Linked DNA regions of Homo sapiens. The protein of the gene in region 3 purifies or fractionates together with the protein of the main gene of each other region. This does not show direct contact. Each region holds a gene or a part of one and is shown on either strand. Other genes may lie near its edges.

Region 1 (5,114 bases), on a different chromosome or scaffold from region 3:
CCCAGCATGCAGAGGTGTGTACTCAGTGCTGTGTGAGATGCCTGTGGGCCCAGGCACGGAGGGATGCATGCGTGCCCAGAAAGCAAAAGGCTGTGCAGAGGACCTGCTAGGAGGTAATGACTAGAGAACATGTTTTTAAGCAAACAGGTGAAGGGAAAATGCAAAATAAGGAGCTACATAAGCATCACATCTTAAGAATCATTATGGAGCACCTAACTGTGACTTGTTGGGCTGGGAGCCAAACAACATAGGTGGGACACGCTGCACATAAAAGTAACAAGCTGGAGGTCCAGAGGAACCCTTGGAGCCGTCCCAAGACTGAGAGCCGGTGTCAGGCACCACCTCTTCTGGGCACCTGGGCTATGGCAGTGGGGAGGATGAGCCCCTGATCCCAGAGGCCACTCTCTCACACAGTGCAGTGCAGTCTTTCTCACACAGGACCTAGTGTAACACGGGACCTAATGGCAGGACACATCAACCCATTAAAAATCCAAGCAAGGTACAAGAGATTTCTAGAAACAAAGAATCAGGCTTTATTTTTGTTATTTTGAATACAGGTATTGTATTGTAGACATCTGTTAGTCTCATAATTCAGTATGGCCAACACACAGAAATTAAAAGTAGAAACAAAATGAGGGCACACTTGCTCCTGTCCTTGGCTTGGCCCCTCCAACCTCCAAAAGAACTGTCCTCCCCATTGTCATATCCTTTCCCTGCTACGAAAGACAAAACAAAATGATGCCCCAAAGAAAAGTCCCAGAGGCTCTCTCCCAGCAGTCAGTGGGATGAAGCAAGACACTGTTACCTTGGGTAGGATGGAGAAGCCACCAGGTCCATACCACAGAGGCCACAGTGGGATGGAGAAGCCACCAGGTCCATACCACGGAGGCCACGTGTGCCACCAGTGGAGCCAAACCCTGGCCATGGCTGGCAAAACTCACCACCAGGCGAGACCAGAGCATATTATCTACCAGTAATCCCCGAGGTCCAACGCCATTCAAGTCAGGCAGCCCTGAGGCAAGCAGGAGGAGCCCTGTCCTCTGGGGGTGCTGCTTCCAGAGGAGGCCCAAGGACAGTCTCTTCAGAGAGGGGCTCACCCGGGAAAGGGGGTTCCTGAGGAGGCGTGCAAAGGTCAAGGGACCCACCCTTGCCACCTGTCCCAGGGCTTACTGCTGACTCCACTGTCCTGGGAGTGCTGGAATCTCCACACCACTTAAAATGAAAAAGGAAATCAGAAATAATAAGGCATTAGACGTTTGATTCTTTTATTTCCATATGCAATGTAATGTTTAGGCACGCTGCTTGGGATGCTACTTCTAAAAAAATTGTTGGCCATTTTTCAGAATATCCTTTTGGTTTTAAATACTGGTCAGGAAAAACAAATGATGTAAAAATACGTGAATAATTTTCTATTACAGAAATGAAAAACTGATTTGCATCTAAAAGTGCAAGAGGTGAAGTAATTTAACCCTTTCACCAGACGATATGGCAATATACAATATATTGCTTGAGCTGTTTGAGAAGGCTGTGATGTATTTTTGTATTGACATAGAAAATTATAAATTACATTGAATTAGTATCCATAATCACTATATATATACACAAACCAGTTCTAAAAAAATACACTGGTTTAAATTTATGAGTGAAAACCTCACAAGGTACAGTAAACAATTAGCATGCTTCGGTGCCAGATTTTGATTTCTACTTTTAAAATACTAGCCTGTAAAATGAACGCACTCTAATTCCATTAGCAGCACGAGCATTTTCAACTGACTTGCCTAATAGGATTTATTTTAGGTCTGTTAAATATGCAGATTGCTCTGAAATGTTCATTGGTGATGCTTGTTAACAAGGTAAATTTTGGTGAATGGGTTAAAAGGCAGATGAACTACCAAATGAAACAAAAAAACAAACAAAAACAAAAGCCAAAAAAAAAAAAAAAAAATCCCAAAACACAAGCCATATACACTCCAAATAGTCTAGTGTTTCACTTGTAGGAATAATCATTTCAAGCAAACAAGACTTGAACAGAACATATGGCTTTACGATAACATCAATTTATCAACTATGATGTAGCAATAAATACTTTACTTAATCTCTACCAATAGACTTACATTTTTGATCCGTTTTAAACAATACAGAAAACAATTACCAATCAAAAACTGGTTATAAAAAGAACACCAAATATTTCTTATTCAAAATCACTTTTGTAAGTTAGAACAACCAAAATAACACTTAGAGGGCATTTTCATTCTACAACTCCTTGTCGGCCTGGAGGAAAAATGAATTCATAATTTTGTACAAGGTGAAAAATGTATGAAAACCGCCTAATACTTTGGTCACACTAATAATTGTCAAAGTTATGTTTCAAATACAATAGATCTGTGTATTCACTTTTATAAAACTATTCTTACAGCCATTTTAACTATAGTATTACTACTATTATTACATGGGTGGCAAGATCTTATTTCACAGGCTACCCATTATTTAGAACAATACAATATAAACATACGCAAAAATTCTTGGTATTTGTCAATGTGCAATATTTTTACACTTCTGAATTTCTCTGTACAATGTCTTAGAATCTAGAATATAAAGGTTGCTGGTCCTGATCCCTTGCAGAGTGAGTGCAGCAGTGACAGCTTGGTGGGCTCCAGCTGACCCCTCCAGAGCCCCTGAGTGGTGGCGGTCTGCAGTCCTCAGTCAGCAGCAGCAGACGTCACCCGTCATACAGGGCCATTCACTGAAGTGTCACCTGGTGCGCTTGGTTGGCCAGTCCTAAGGAGCAACAGACAGGCATCGGAGGCACTTGCAGCAGAAATATGAAAAACAAAACCTACTTAGCTGAGCTCCCCAAGGGCAGGGACAACTTATTTTAACATTGTTTTGAACTTAGTAAGTTTTTAATAAAATGATATGTAAATGAATGGAGCAAAAGCTCTAGAAAAATCTGAGTGAGTGCATCTAAGCTTCATCACCGGGTGAGCAGGCATTCAGCAAGGGCAGCAGCAGAGCAAATGCTCTGGGAGAACCGCCCCACCGCGGCCTCCAAGAAGCACAGGGAGTGACTAGGTCAGTGGGGTATAAACTGTGGCTTCCAGAGCCTTCAGGAGCTATGTGTTCACCGCTCCTTCAAGAAAGCTTTTATGTGACCCACAGATTGGAATCCACATACTATTTCACTTGGAAACAGGATTCTGCTACTAGGAAAGGGGGGAAAAAAGGAAAGGAAAGGAGGTTTGCAAATAAACTACTGGAAAAAAAAAAAAAGGTGTCCACTTGAAGAACATGTCCCACAAAGCAAATGTTAGGCTCAAAACTGGGAGGGAATAACAGGTGGGACAGTATATAACAAAGTGTCCAGGTTTTGCCTTCCTGCCAAAATTACAACCTGAATATATAACCTATTCGGGAAGGCTTGACCAAAATTGTATCAAGCAGACTTGGGAAAGGGTGCTTAGGGCCGTAACTGGGATGCCCACAAGCACTTTTCCACTAGCATTCACAATTTACAGCTAGAATGCTACTCATGCCTTATACCTGCTGGTTATACAGTGAGCCAAAAAGTCAGCTCTGCACACACAATCCACTCTGCTCACTTACTTACATCTGATGGTGGCTCCGTGTATGAGAGACATAGGAATCGAGACTTCTGGAACTAGACATAACTGGTATATAACTAACTTGCCTTCACTTAAACAAGCTGAGTGATCTTATAAGTAGATTTCTTAGCCCCTCTCAGTTCTGTTTTCTCCTCTGTAAAATGGGAAAAGAACCCTCCCCACGCCCCACAGGGCTTCACTAGTATACATATGAAATAAGTACATAATGTGTGCAGCATGCTCAGCACATCAGAAGCACAAAGGACATGCTTGATAAAACAGCTGTGAAAAGTGAGATCATGTGGCAATGCAGATCTTTAAGTGTGACAGGAAACAGCGCGCCTGCCAATCCAAGGAACTGTGGTATCTGGCTGGGACGGGAACCACACAGGAAAGACGGGTGAGCTTCAATATCCCATGCTGTCATACGTCACTTTAGAACACGTGCAATCTAGGACGCACTCTAGGTCTGCCCTAATGCCCACTCCAACGTCACCTCAGAGATCCTCTCCCCCGCACCCCAGCTCACATGGACCCCTGTCCCTTCTTCGTGGCTTCTTGATGAATGTGCCTCTAGTATGCCCCGAGACCACTGGGTGTCCGTGTGCTGCAGCTTTATGACCCGGCCTAGACCAGTGGCCACCACACACAAACGTGTGTCAGAGGAAAGAAGGACAGATGGATAAAGGCATGGACCCAAGTGATGCCCCTCTTCTTCCACTGGCTGACCCCATCTTTTCCTCCATCCCTTGGCCCGGCAGGTTAGGGCAGGGCTCTTCAGAGCAGGCATTCCCAGCCACAGAGGAGAGCAAGTGGCTTCCCCTTATGCAAACAATTCTTCTGTGCTCAGAAAGCCAAGGAAATGACTCCAGAGCCTTGTGCATCCTTATGACAGAGAAACCAAGAATATTCCCCTGAAGCAACTGCCCCAAACTGGGATAGACCTGGACGATCCTGCCTAGGCAGCCCTCAATATAAAGGAAATTTATAGGTAGAAATCAGAGAGCTGAAATAATTGATTGGGAATGAGACCTATAAAGGACCATTAAAAAATACATTGAAACCCCAAGAAAGAGAGTGACTTGCCCAATCCGTAGAAGCAGAGTTGAGGCAGCTTCCCAGTGCTAGAGGGCCACCCTGCCTCTTCCCCCAAAAGCCTTCACTAGAGCCAACATGCTCAAATAGTTCTTAATTTGTTTGTTTTATATGCAAAAAAAATATTTCTAATCACAAAAACAAAGGCTTTATTTTGGCTACAATTTCCACAGGAGGAACACAAACAGCTTGCTACACTGTGAATACAGGATTTTGGACCAACAAAGAGTGCTCCCTGCTGGTTCCCACTGGTTATGCTCTCATACAATGCTGGCAAGATTTGGGGGAGGATGGGGTGGGGGTGGGGGGTTAAAACTTCTCTGAAATAGCTTTAAAGGTCATTTTATTCCTTATGGAAGGAATATACAATCTTAGCTACATTTGTTCACAGAAGTTGATTGTGGGAAGTGCTGAACA
Region 2 (6,904 bases), on a different chromosome or scaffold from region 3:
GCTGGGCACAGTGGCTCATGCCTATAATCCCAGCACTCTGAGAGGCCGAGGCGGGAGGATCACAAGGTCAGGGGATCGAGACCATCATGGCTAACACAATGAAACCCTGTCTCTACTAAAAATACAAAAAATTAGCCAGGCGTGGTTGCGGGCGCCTGTAGTCCCAGCTACTCGGGAGGCTGAGGCAGGAGAATGGTGTGAACCTGGGAGGCGGAGCTTGCAGTGAGCCGAGACTGTGCCACTGCACTCCAGCCTGGGCAACAGAGTGAGACTCCATCTCAAAAAAAAAAAAAAAACAAAAAACTGAAAGTGAAATAAAGATTTTTTAAATGAAGACAGTGTTTACCACTAACAGATTCCCACTGGACAAACATCTGAAGGATGTATGTATCTATGCAATAAAAAAGGAAGGAATAAAATGCAAGGAAAAATAGTGAAAAAGCAAACAGTAGACATACATGGGTAAAATGAAATAATCACTAACAATACAAAACAATAAACATATTTTAATTGTGTTGGGGTCTCACTCTGTTGCCCAGGCTAGCTAAGAACTCCTGGGCTCAAGCCATTCTCCCGCCTGCTCCTCCTGCCTCAGCCTCCAGAGTAGTTGGGATGACAGGGCAAGCCACCATGCCCAGCTACAAAATAATAATTATCAATTAGAATTGTTCAGCTTAGAGATGGATTGACTTTGGGAATGATCTCATTCTAGAAAGTACTCATTTTGAGTCTGGACAACACCTTTTGGTATGTTTAGTGTACACTGGGTAAGAGGCTAAATTAAATGACCACACCATATATTAGGTTAATGCAAAAGTAACTGTGGTTTTTGCCATTACTTTCAATGGCAATAACTGCAATTACTTTTGCACAAACCTAATATCTTCTGATCATAGTTTTATCAATTAGACACAGCTGTCCAAACAGCCCCTGATCAGCTCTGTTCAGCCACCTGAGCAGGGCTTTGCCCTCATCCTAAAAGTTCTAGAATTCAAGTCTTATTTCAAGGCATTCTTCCCACTTCCATGTTCCACATGTAAAAAAGAATTCTACGTTTCTTAACGAGCTTTCAGGTAAGATCTTTAAGCTTTTGGAATGTACCGCTTTTCGCTGTGAACTAAGAGCTTAGACATTACAATTAGTCATCCCTTGCTAGAACTTAGGCTACGAAAAGAATACTTTGGAAGCTTTCACAAAAAAGTATGTGGTTCTTCCTCTAAAGAAGAAAATACCACACAGAAAGAGGGACTGAGGAAACATAAACCCATCTGTGCTGACAGAAAGCTACCTTACATGATCCTCATGTTCGCCCCAGGTTCCCATATATTCACAGCAGTAAAGATCTCCACAAAGCAGAGAGGCCCAACTCCCTTACCATTAAAGCTTTAACGACCAGACAACCCAGAAGTTTGGAAACATAGAACCAGGCAACAGATACTAGAGAGAGGGAATTATGTATTAAAGCAAGAAAATATCATCACGTTTTCAAGAGGGAGTGCCATTCCAGTAAAGAGGACAGCTTAATACTGAGGTTCAAATGCCACTAAATGAAAACGGGAAAGCGAAATTCCTGTGCCCTTTCAGCCCAAGAAATTATTCCAAAGCATACATTTATTCCCATTACATGTCGCAAATCCTGCCTAGCCATTAGGATACAGTGACGAAAAAGTCTCTCGTTATCTAGAAGGGCAGACAAACACGCAGACTTTTAAAATACCAGATGGCAGGCCGGGCGTGATGGCTCACGCCTGTAATCCCAAGCACTTTGGGAAGCCGAGGCGGGCGGATCACGAGGTCAAGAGTTCAAGACCGGCCTGGCCAAGATGGTGAAACCCTGTGTCTACTAAAAATACAAAAGTTAGCCGGGTGTGGTAGCGGGCGCCTGTAATCCCAGCTACTCGGGAGGCTGAGGCAGGGAACTGTTTGAACCCGGGTGGCAGAGGTTGCAGTGAGCCGAGATCGCGCCACTGCACTCCGGCCTGGGCGATAGGGCGAGACTCCGTCTCAAAAAAAAAAAAAAATGACAAGTGCTAACTCAGAGGTAAGCAAAAGAGAGTACCCAGAGGCGGCAGCATCAACCCAGTGGGCTCCCGCCCACCCACAATCTTCACACAGTCACACCACTTATAGTCATAAATTTGTACTCTCCGAGGTGCGTGTATGAAACATGTTATCTGTGAGAGTCCATGGATGAAAAACAAAAACAAACAAAAATTAAAAAAAAAAAAAAAAAAGACTTAACCTGTTTTGACCAGGACAACCACCCCAGGAAGTAGGTAAGGCAGGTAAGGTCATTGTTTACATATATGAAAAGTGAGGCTCAAAATACACTGACCAGTCCAAGACAACGCGCGCCCCCACAAAGCACCTTCCCCGTCCCCATTTATGCCCAACCCATAAACCCAAAGTAGAGCCAACCTCGCACTGGCTACGTAACCCGGGCCAAGCTAAACATTATAAACCTCAGGCTCCCCATCTTTAAAGTATAACAGGTGGTTAGAAGATTAAAAAGATAAACATTTGGCAGGTCATTGTGGACGGTGTAGCTCAGAAAATGCTGACTACTGCACTACCATAACTACTGCTATTGTTAACGATAAAAGGCAAAGACTTTCCAGGACCCGACCCCTCGCTTACAAGCCTTTCGGGAACTTGCCCTATACCCCCGACCCCAGTCACCTTCAGATTTAATTCCACAGACACGCCCCCAAACAGACCCTCCCCTTTAAGGCACCCCCCCCCCCCCCGGCTCCTCCCTCTCAGGCGCCTCTCCTCACAAACCTTACCCCCATAGATTCTGCCCTTTCGGACTCGGTTATGGAGGAGGCCTTCCGCTCGCAGCGGCCTCTCCAGCACCCCTTTTAGGCCTGAGCACCCGCAGGGGTGCCCAGGCCGCACGCCAAACGCGGGCCCGCGCCGGTTACCTGGCTGCGCGCTCCCGCTCTGCCTCGCGATTCTCCGGAATCGTACCTCTTCGTGGGCTCGCGCCAGCGCTGTGAGCGCACAATTAGTTTAAACTATGGCCCCGCCCCCTCGCGCTGCCCTCTGATTGGCCTCTGTCGGCGGGGCCCGCTTAAGGACCCGGGAAAAGGAAGTTTGAGGGCCACTGGGAAAGAGAAGGGGTATCACCGCTTCCGGACCCCGGCCTGTACTTGAAGGCAAAGAGAACTACAAATCCCAGCGTCACCCGCGGCCTTGAAGCCCCGCCCCTGACAAACTGAAGGTCCCGGTAAGCATCGCGTCAGTACTTATGGCGCCTGCCGGGTTGTGGTGACGAAAGCAGTTGCCATGGAGTTGCTCTGAGTAACCCTGAGGCAGTGGGACGCCAAGACTGGAGAGGAAGCGACTGCGGGTGAGTCGGGCGGGAAAACAGGAAACCCGTTCTAGGGGACAAGAGATCTATGGAGAAGGGAGGGGCACTCACAGAACGACTAAGAACCTTCCTGCTCGGGGATCTGAGATTTCCCCCACCGACCCTCATCACCTTTCACAGCGAACAAGATACAACACTCACATGGGACAGACTGGGCGAGGGGGAGCAGAGGGAGGGATAGGCGTTGAGATATATATCCATACAGATTTGGGGATGCTTAAGAACCACCCCCAGGGCCGGGAGCGGTGGCTCACGCCTGTAATCCCAACACTGGGAGACCAAGGCGGGCGGACCACTTAAGGCCAGGAGTTCGAGACCAGCCTGAGAAACATGGCGAACCCTGTCTCTACCAAAAACATAAAAAAATTAGCCGGGCTTGGTGGCGCGCTCCAGTGGCCCCAGCTACTAGGGAGGCTGAGGTAGAAGGATCGCTTGAGCCCGGAGATTGAAGCTGCAGTGAGCCGTGATCACGCAACTACACTCCAGCCTGGGCTATAGAGCGATACCTCCATCTCAAAACAAAACAAAACGAAACAAAACAAAAACAAAACAAAACAACGAACCCCGCCCCCAACGCAAACATAAAGCTCCCAAAATCGGATGCTTCAAGTTCCAGGCATAACCTGGGAGATCAGAAACGCCCTCAGAAATGGGGTTGGTTTTCCTCTGAGGAACTGAGACCCTCTTCCAAGACATGCGGTTAGCATTAGATTGAGTAAATCGCAGTCGCTACCCTAATTCTAGAGATGTAGGAAACTTCCTGGGGCGTGAAGTGCCTCATTCCTTCTTCTTCCAAGGAGTAAAACCCCTTCTCAATCTGTCCCCAGATTCCCTTTTCTCCCCACACCTTCTCCGTGGTCCGCTACTCAAAGCTCTACAGTTAGAGCTTCATTTTTTTTAGTACTCACGACAGATCTATTACATTTAGTAACCTACCCAGTGCTTTCACAGTCTCTCTTTTGATACTCTTAACAGCTCTGTGAGTCAAGGATATTTATCTTCATTTCACAGATTGGAAAACTGAAACCCAGAGAAAAGGGACTTGCCCAAGGCCACACACCAAATTAGTGACAGAGCTAGAACTAGACTCCAGTTCTCCGACTTCCAGCTAAGTCTCTTTAGCTTCAGCCTACTGCCTCTATAGCGGAAGGACTTGTTCCAAGGAACAAGTTAAACTGCCCCAGGGAAAAGGAACCTGTGTGGCCTACTTTGTATTATTTACACTTCAGCTGGAATGAATTTCAGATCCTCCCCTGAAACTTTTAATGGGGAAAAGGAACTAGAGAGACTAAGACAATGAGACTTGAACATTTTTAACTAAACAGGAAACAGAAGGGCTAACACAGCACCCATGTCTGAAGTGACCATGATTAGCTGGTTTCTAGCTGGTGACTAGCTGGCCCTGACTGGTCCACTTACTACCTTAAAGTTCTCCCAGGTTTGGTCCTACGCCCTCTTGCCACTGCACTCTATATTCTCTTCTTGGGTACCCCTCCACACCCACAACTTCATTTTCCACCTGTATGCAAATGTACACAAGTGTGTATCTCAAGCCCAGCCCTCATCTCTAAGCTCCAGATCTATATAGCCAATTGCCTCAACATCTCCTTTAGGATACCTCAAAGGCAACCCAAACTCTACATTTCTGAAATTGAAACAATCTCTGTGTATCCCAACCTTTTCCTCCAAGCCTGGATCTCTTCCAGTGCTCCTACCTTTATCCACAATATACCCAAGCCCAAAACCCAAGTTAGTACCTCTTCCATTTACTTAATACCTCTTCCATTTCCCATCTATCACTAAGTCTTATCAGCTTTACTTCCTGAATATCTTTTATATAGGTCCTAGCTACCATCACATCCTTCCTGCCTTCCCTCCCAGCCATATTTGCGCACTGCAACCAGAGTGATCCTTCAAAATGCAAAGCTGATACTGTTCACTCTCTACCCCACCCCCAATTTTTTTTTTTTCTTTTTGAGACAGAGTTTCGCTCTTGCTGCCCAGGCTGGAGTGCAATGGCGCAATCTCGGCTCACAGCAACCTCCACCTCCCGGTTTCAAGCAATTCTCCTGTCTCAGCCTCCCAGGTAACTGGGATTACAGGCATGCGCCACCACACCCGGCTAATTTTATATTTTTAGTAGAGACGGGGTTTCTCCATGTTGGTCAGGCTGGTCTCGAACTCCCGACCTCAGGTGATCTGCCCACCTTGGCCTCCCAAAGTGCTGAGATTACAGGCGTGAGCCGCCACGCCCAGCCAGCCCCCATTTAATATTAATACTATGTGGTTTCCTATTGCTCCCATCTCTCCAGCCTCCAGTCTAACCATACATATTCATCCTTCTCTCCCCTTCAGTTATATAACCTTTAAGGTCTTCAAAATTTCCAAGTACCCTTCCACCATAGAACCTTTGCATATAGCAGTCACATCTGCCTGGAATGCTCATTCCACACCACCCCCTACCCCATAAGTTAATTTGTACTTATCCTTTAGATTTCTCTCAGTCACTTCTTCAGGAATGTCTTCCTGTAGACTGTTCAGACCAGGTCAGATCCCTCAATTACAGCAACCTCATGGCCCTCTCCTTTGTAGTATTATTTAGTTGCAATTTTTAATGTGTTTGTTAAGCACCTACTACTTGCCGGCACTATGAGATACAACTGTAAGAAAAAATATGGTTTCTGCCCTGCTGGTGTTTATGGACATACAGATAGTAAGCAGATAATTACAGTGTTACGAGTGCTACCATGGCAATCATAGCACTACAATTACAGATTTGAGGATAAAGGTAGACTTCTCAGAAAAGTTGAAACCTGATCTGAGCCCTGAAATAAGAATTAGCAAAGCAAAAGGAGGAGAGAAAAACTATATTCCAAGCAGACAGAGCTGGAAGGAGACACTGTTCCACTTAGAGGCCCAGTGGCAGGTGCAGGGAACTTATGGTGAGTGGTTGCATTTGGCTAGACTGCAGAATTGGAGTTGAGGATGAGATGGTAGTAGAGGGGGGTGGACAGGAGCCAGGTTGAATCTTGGTCCTCCTTTTGGCACCTGGGAATATAACCTCCCAGAATATATTAGATTATGTGGCAGATTTTTCTTCTTTTTCTTTTGACAGGGTCTCGCTCTGTTGCCCAGACTGGAGTGCAGTGGCACAGTCATAGCTCACTGCAGCCTCGAACTCCTGGGCTTGAGCCATACTCCTACCTCAGCTTCCCAAGTAGCTGGGACTATAGGCGTGAGCTGCCATGCCTGGCTAAATATGTGGCAGATTTTTCATAGCAGCCTTTGATTTTTTTTCCACCATCAGTCCATCATCAGAAACTCTCGGGCCAGGCTGTTGAATCTCCTATCAGATTTATGTGATTATTCCTCAAAGCTTCCTGTGTTATCATGTTGCAACTTGCCTGAGAGAGGGCAGGAATAGGCTAGCAACAAATCAAATTCCAAATGTTAGTAATTTCCCAAAACTGAAAACAGTTTTCTGTCAACTTGGGATTGGTTAAATAAATTAAGTGAATAACATTAAAGTAC
Region 3 (7,031 bases):
TAAGAGAAGCCACCAGTGTTCTCAAGCTCCCCCTTCTTCCTCGCTGTCTCTGCTAGGTGAGGACACAACAAGAAAGCGCCGTCTGCCAGCCCGGAAGAGGCTCTCGCCAGCACCCGAGCACACAGCACCCAAACCCTGGCCTTCTGGCCTCCAGAGCCGTGAGGAGTAAACGTCTGCTGTTGCTGCCCCGGCCTGCGGTGCTTTGTGAGGGCAGTCGGAATGGACCATGATGGTCATCTCCCAAAGGTGCTGCAGCCTGCTTCCCCTGTTCCTGTCCGCGCCTCCCCTGCTCCTGTCTGCGCCCCACCCCGCTTCTGTCCGCGCCCCCACCCCGCTCCTGTCCGCGCCTCCCCCCGCTCCTGTCCGCGCCTCCCCCCGATCCTGTCCGCACCTCCCCCGTTCCTGTCCGCACCTCCCTGTTGGGCTTTTCTTTCTCCCAAAGCTCATCCCATGTGGCTCACTCCTGGGCTCCCCGTTCCTCACCTATCAGCTGCTGGACGCGGCTCAGCGGTCTTGGTGCCAGTGAGGGCCCCAGCAGTGCCTGGCACACGGCAGGAGCCTGGTGACCAAGCAGCAGGCATTTACTGTGTATCTGCTGCGTGCGGGACCCTGTGTGCCATTTCCCACACACTGTCCCCTCTGGGCCCTCTTAGGCGCACGGACAGAGGGTGCATCCTCCATCCCGGCGGCTGCCCAAGGGCCACTGGGCTGCTGGAACAGGCGGATGGTGCTGCAGCCACACCTGCCTCGTCCACCCAGGGCCCGAACGCAACAGGCTTACGGGCCCTCAGGCTCGCTGGCCTCTCACCCCTGCCAAGCTCTGTTCCCAGCACTACTGATGGGCCCGTTCCCCAGATGGGGACACTGAGGCACAAGTGGGTCAAGTCACTTGATCAGCTGGCCAGGGCTGGAGCCCACAGCCTAAACTGCAGGGGAGGTTATGCCATGCACATCCCTGACCCCAAGGCCACTCGTTGGGACGTTCAGGGGACTTCTCCCAGGAAGGCTGGTGGCATGCTCCCCCAGTAACTCTTGTGTACCGTGCTCACAACGCCCTGAGCAGGGCCCAGACGGTGGAGGGCTGAGAAGTACGGTCAGCAGGGCCGAGGGCAGTCGCACATCCTGTGGGACAGGCAGGGCCATCGGGGACAGGCCAAGGGCAGGGGGCGGTCCTGCAGGGCTCAGGGCCGGCTCCCTCCTCCCAACATGCCAATCATGCTGCCCGCACCAAGAGTGGCAGCAGAGCCTCCGTCCTGCCTGGCACCCTTGCTGGGGTGGGGGGTGGGCAGCCCAGGAGCAAGTGTGGGAGGCCCGGGCCTGTGCCCTCTGGCCAGGGAGGTGGGGGCTGGTTGCTGTCAGGGTCTCATAGAGGCCACACACCCAGAGGAGCTGGACAAGGGCAGTGGCTGGCAGGGTGGTGACCCCCAGACACACTTCTGGGGCTTCTCTGCTGGCTGGGGAGGGGCCAGCAGAGGGCGGTGAGATTAATACGCTGACTGAGCCGCGCCAAGGCTCTTTGTCCTCCAGCCGCACGTAAGTCTCCTTGTGTTTATCAACGGGACACCAAACCCACCAGCCTCTGCCACGCCCACCGCCCCCATGGACCACGCCCACAACAGCAAGGCCACGCCCCACCGCGTCCCCGCCGGGCTGAAGCCCCACCTCCAGACGACTTCCTCCTCCCTGCCCACACCCCGCTGGGCAGCGCCCTCCTGTGCCCCCAGCCCTGGCGCCCCCTCCGCACGGCCAGGCTCTAGCGCGGCTCTGCACCCCCCTCCCCTCCCGCAGCTCGCAGATCCACCCCGCCCTCCGCACCTGCCGAATGGGGAGGCTGCGTGGGTCCTTCCGTGGCGCCCCCAACCCGCAACGCCGGGTCCAGACTCCCGGCCTCAAGGCCCTGTCCCTGCCAGGCTCAGCTGAGCCGGGGTCTCACCCAGGGCCGCCCAGGCTCTAGGTGTGCAGCCTGCCTCCCACAGCGGCAGCCGGGCGGCGGCCCCAGCCAGGCTGCCGGGCTGCCCTGGGCGGGGAGGAGGACCCTTCCCCAGCCCTGGGGGAGGAGGCGTCCGGCCGGCTGGAAGGGGTCCCGCACTCGGGGCGGCACAGAGGAGCCAGAGAGGGACAGAAGCTGCATTGTTCCAGCGTCCTCCCACTCCGGCCCCCCTTTTCCTTGGCTCCAAGAAAGAAAACGTCGGGAGGACCCAGAGCCGCAGCCTCCGCGGAGCCTTTCCAGAGCTGCTCCCAGCCCTGCTGCCAGTTGCTGCTGGGGTCCCAGATGGTGGCAGTGCCGAGCCAGGGACACAGGAGGGTACTAGGGGTGCCGCAGGAGCTCTCGGCAGAGCTCCCCACCCTTAGGAAACCCCGGCCATGGGTAGAAATAGGCCTGGACATCCTGGGGGGCACATTCCAGCCCATCCCCTACCCACCCACTGCCATCGGTCACAGCACCTTGTCCCACGGACTCGCTGAGGGCCCCAGAGCCTCTGCTCCTTCCTCTGTCTTCAGCCTCTGCGGTGGCTGACATGCACCCCCAATTTCCCAGGAGAGGTCATCGTCAGAAACCCATGAGCACTGTGGCACAAAAACCCAGGGGATGGCTGGGCACGGTGGCTCACGCCTATAATCCCAGCACTTCTGGAAGCCGAGATGGGAGGATCGCTTGAGGCTGGGAGTTTGACACTGGCCTGGGCAACATAGTGAGGCCCTATCTCTATAAAAACATTTAATTATTAAAAATAAGATAAGAAAAAGAAACTCCGGCAGCCCAGCACCACATCCAAGCCTGGTGTTCCCAGCCTGGTCCTTAGCAGGCCTGGGGGGCACCAGGTACGTTCTGGGAGGCAGGCATCCCTTCTCGGGGGCTGGCAAACTCAAGACCTTTGGGAGTGGGGGACACATGGGTGGGGCAGCTGCTCCCCCCAAGCCTGCCCCTCACCCACCTGCCAGCCACCTCAGGAAGTCGGCCCAACCTGGCACCACCCCCCTGGCACCTATTAGTCTTTTCGCTTTGCAGGGGACGTTCTGTCCTGTGTCTGCAGCACTGCTGACCGGCATGGGACGACCAGCGGTCCATGAATGAGGTCACCACGGTGGCCTCGCATGGCCTTGGGCCTTGCCTGATTACTGCCCCAGGCACATAGGGCTCCCACAGCCCAGCCCAGCCCAGCCCAGCCCAGCCCTCTGGCTGATGCCCTCTCGCCTCCCAGCAGCCCTCTCCTACTTGGGTCTGAGGACAGAAGCCCTCCCTGCACCGAGGGCTCCAGGGGGAGGTGGGGGTGGAGGCCCTGGAGCAGCCAGTGGGGCAACAGGCGACCACCTCCTGTCCTTCATCCAGCAGCCCTGCAGCGCCACTCAGGATGCGGGTGGGAAGGGCTCAGGGTGAACCTCAGGCCTGTGCTGTCCCTGAGGCCAAGAAGAACTGGCTTGTAGGCGCCATTTTCTGGCGGCTGCCACCTCCGCCATGCTGGCCTGGCCTCGATCCCACCCCTCCGCAGCTCCTGATGCGGTCCGTGCCTGTGGGGAGCAAGACCCCCCCACAACCCTGGAACTCACCCTGGGCCTCATAGCCGGCCAGGTCAGGCTTCTCTGAGGCTGCCGGGCTGGTCAGGCGGCCGAGCACCAGCTGCAGCTGCGCCACGTTCATGCGGGCCGTGAGCTCCCCATGGCGGTCCCCGATCTGCGGCGAGTGGGGTGGCGGAGCGGGCAGGTGTGGCTGGGGGCCCTGCTGTGGGCTCCAAGGGGACCTTAATGGCCCCCAGTACACCCGTCCCTGACCTTCTGAGTGACCTGAACTGGTCACTGACCCCTGGGCCTCTGAGGGAACCAGGACTCACTGTGGACCCGGAGGTGGAGTCTGGGGGTCTGTCCCTGGGTGAGGTGGCCCCACAGGTCCTCAACAGCCCCTAGTTCACCCCAGAGATGCTTGGGGTCCCAGGCGGTTGGGCCTGTGCCCTCCGGTGCGCGAGGGGCCCGGCCCCGCCCGGCTGCACCTCTCTCAGCCCCTGCCTTGTGCGCCGAGGCTCTGTGGGGGACCCTCCCGGGAACATCCACATCACTCAGGAACTAACTGTTTGCTTAAGTCAAGCAGAAGAGAGGTGGCATGGGGTTGGGGGGAGGGCCACATGGAGCCCTGGAAGGCCCTGGAGGCTGTAGCCTGCACTCAGAGGGACACGGGGGCTGCCTGCTGGCTGCCAGTGAAGCTCTTCAGACGAGGGCTCTGCTGACCTTCCCATGCCCGCCCCTCTCCACCCTCACCTGGGCACCTGCAGGCCTCCCCACCCGGCCACCTCCTACATGGGTCTATGGTGGTCAGTAGGGGCTGGCACCGTCTTTAGCATGAACAGGCTCGGGGTGTGCAGAGGGAGGTGGCGTGGGAGTGGGTGATGTAAGGACAGGCCGGGAGCCGGGAGGCCCACAGTTCATCTGTGATGTTCCGCCCTGACCACAGTAGGAGGGCGCTGATGGGCGGAGCCCACAGAGACCCTGTGCAAACTCTCCAAGGAGGAGGAGACGCAGCTGCCCAGGAAGGCACCAGCTGGGGGCTGCAGGAAAAACCCCCGGGCATGGTAGACATGTCATCACCAGGCCTCGGAAGGACCAGGCAGCTGCAATGGCCCTGAAAGGATGAGGGGGGCCCAGGCACGCACACGCTCGCTCGGGGCAGAGGGGACCCGGCCCGTCTGGAGTGGGCTGGGCAGTGCCCGGGACTTCTGGGGGCAGGCCTGGCTCACCTCCTGGGAGATCTGCAGGTGCTTCTTGGCGAAGGTCAGGGCCTGCGCTGGGCGCCCCATGGACACGTAGGCATTTCCCAGGCTCCAGCACGCCCGGCCCTCGCCCACTCTGCCAGAGAGGGAGACCAGATTCATACCCGCCCTCTCCAGGCCAGCCCCCAGCCCCAGCCCCTCCCCTGGTGGTCACGGCCCCAGCATGACCCTGGCTTCGAGGGTCATCAGGGGCCCCCAGGCCCAAGGGGCATTGGCCGGATGACAGGATAATGCCCCCAGCTGGACCTCCCACAAATTCTGCCACCTTCAAGCATAAGCCCCAATCAGCTCTGCCTTTTTTCTTCCCATTAAAAGGATTAGCGCAGAGTCCAAGCAACCTGGCCTGTGGCCGGCTCTGCCTTTGCGGGCAGTTTCTGGGCCCTTGGCCTCGCTCGCCCCCTGGCGGCCGGCAAGCCTCCTCCCTTGCACTCCCTCCACCCTTACGGGCACCCTCCAAGTCACTGGGTGAGGGGGTTGTTTTTATATTGGAGGGAAATGCGTCTAACAGGAATTTGATCATTTTCACGTGGACGATCCACTGGCATTTTGTACATTCATGCTGTGCAACCGGCACCTCTGTCTATTCCAGAACATTCTCCTCACCACGCCACAAAGGAAAACCTTGGGCCACTTTTAAGCCTCCAGGCAGGGCAGCCTTTCAAAAGACCTCTCCTCTCTGCTGCCTGTGAAAGGCCACAGGCCTGTGGCTCTGAGCCCCTTGTTCCGGCCACCACCCACCCCAGACCTGCACACAAGACAGTACTTAGGGGCCTGTGGTTTGCCAGCCTGTCTCTCTCCAGAGAGTGATATTTACATACATACATGGGTGGTGGGGGCAACAGGGTGGCGAATTGAGGGATGGGAGGGGGACCCCACCCGCTTGTGCCAGGGGTCAGTGGCCGGCCCAATGTCCACACTGTCTGGCTCAGTCCCCACAGTGGCGTTGCCACTCCTGGGTCACAGCATGGTCAGTGGCAGAGCAGGGGATGGGACCCAGGCCACCTCGCCTGGGCCGCGGTAATTCAGCCTGTGGGCCGGGCCGGGTCTGCCCGCCGCGTCCGCGCCCACGCACCTGTCGGCCAGCTCCTGGGCAATGAGCAGGTGCCGCAGGTGGTACTCGGCCGCGCGCTCGTAGTCCTGCAGCAGCGTGTAGGTGTTGCCCAGACTGTAGCAGGCCTGCGCCTCCACTGCCTGGTCCCTGAGCTGCCGAGACAGTTGCAGCGTCTTCCTGTGCAGAGTGGCAGGGTCAGCCCCCAGGAGGAGGGCTCCAGGGTGAGGGGTGGAAGGTAAGAATGGGGACGCAGTCTGCCCGATGGTCCCCTGCCCCGGAATCCCACTGGGGCCTCTCTGGGGTCCAGCTTCATCCCCACCCTCACATGGCCACAGAGCGGGACTGTTGGCCCCAGGGGGACGGGGGGTCCTGCCAGGCTCTGGCAAGTTGCCTGACCACCCTGAGCCGCCACCACTCCTCCCCGGAGGACCTGAGACTGCTGTGCCCACTGCTCAGGCTGAGATGGGGTTAAGTTTAGGGCTGGGCACAGGACCCCGTGCTGACAGCCGGGCTCCACCCGGCAGGCGCTGCTCTGTGGCTCAGGCCAGGAGGCAGATGGCCCAGACCTCCCATAGGCCGGCTCCCCCACCGCCTGCCTCCCCATGAGCTTTGTCCGTCTGCCCTTCCCGGGGCAGCCTAGAACCCCACCTTGCCTTCTGGGGAGGGGAGGGGAGGCAGTCAGATTCCCAGCTTGGGGCGGGCACTTCCTTGGCCTGGCATCCAGCCCCCCCGGCCTGCTGTCTCCCTGGGAGATTGTGGGGACCACCTACTTGTAGTACTCGGCGGCCACGTCAAAGCGCCCCAGGAAGACGTGGGCGTTCCCCAGGTTGCTGTAGGCCCTCCTCTCGGCTGCCTTGTCTCCAAACTCCTTAGCAATGGCCAGGCGCTGCGGAGACACACCGGAGGCCAGGTGGTCATGGCGCAGCCCCGGGGCCTGACGTGGGCGGACAGGGGCTGCCTCCCTGCCCAGGTGGCCGGCCAGAGATCTGTGTGTCCGGGTGAGCAGCTAGCAGCTGCAGGACCAAGTGCAGATGAGGCCAGGACTCGGTGGGGCGGGCCTGCTGCCTGGCCATACCACCCTGCCCTTTCAGGGACCGCCAAGAGGGTGGCTCAGCCCTGCCCCTGCAGCAGCCCGGCCCCTCCACCCTGTCACCCTGCCCGGCTCACCTCCTTGTGGAAGGTCGTGGCCTCTGTGAAGTTCCCCAACAAATAGTGGGTGT

What was found. The genes of interacting proteins can lie anywhere in the genome.
Region 1: the proteins of GPSM1 (region 3) and PPP6R3 purify together in Homo sapiens (affinity purification with mass spectrometry; 3 studies listed by BioGRID and IntAct, with this or other methods). This does not show direct contact.
Region 2: the proteins of GPSM1 (region 3) and NUMA1 purify together in Homo sapiens (affinity purification with mass spectrometry; 3 studies listed by BioGRID and IntAct, with this or other methods). This does not show direct contact.

Annotation. Positions count from the first base shown.
Region 1 is NC_000011.10:68,610,730-68,615,843, reverse strand, and holds the end of PPP6R3 (serine/threonine-protein phosphatase 6 regulatory subunit 3), read right to left. Parts: intron 2,809-5,114; coding exon of another isoform or gene 2,779-2,808; coding exon 2,727-2,778; 3' UTR 1,213-2,726; coding exon of another isoform or gene 1,167-1,212; 3' UTR 510-1,166; downstream 1-509.
Region 2 is NC_000011.10:72,077,534-72,084,437, forward strand, and holds the start of NUMA1 (nuclear mitotic apparatus protein 1), read right to left. Parts: upstream 3,010-6,904; 5' UTR 2,925-3,009; exon of another isoform or gene 2,787-2,924; intron 1-2,786. UniProt on the Homo sapiens protein: Microtubule (MT)-binding protein that plays a role in the formation and maintenance of the spindle poles and the alignement and the segregation of chromosomes during mitotic cell division.
Region 3 is NC_000009.12:136,337,512-136,344,542, reverse strand, and holds part of GPSM1 (G-protein-signaling modulator 1), read right to left. Parts: coding exon 6,979-7,031; intron 6,698-6,978; coding exon 6,582-6,697; intron 5,989-6,581; coding exon 5,833-5,988; intron 4,837-5,832; coding exon 4,728-4,836; intron 3,674-4,727; coding exon 3,550-3,673; coding exon of another isoform or gene 3,383-3,549; exon of another isoform or gene 2,705-3,382; intron 1-2,704. UniProt on the Homo sapiens protein: Guanine nucleotide dissociation inhibitor (GDI) which functions as a receptor-independent activator of heterotrimeric G-protein signaling.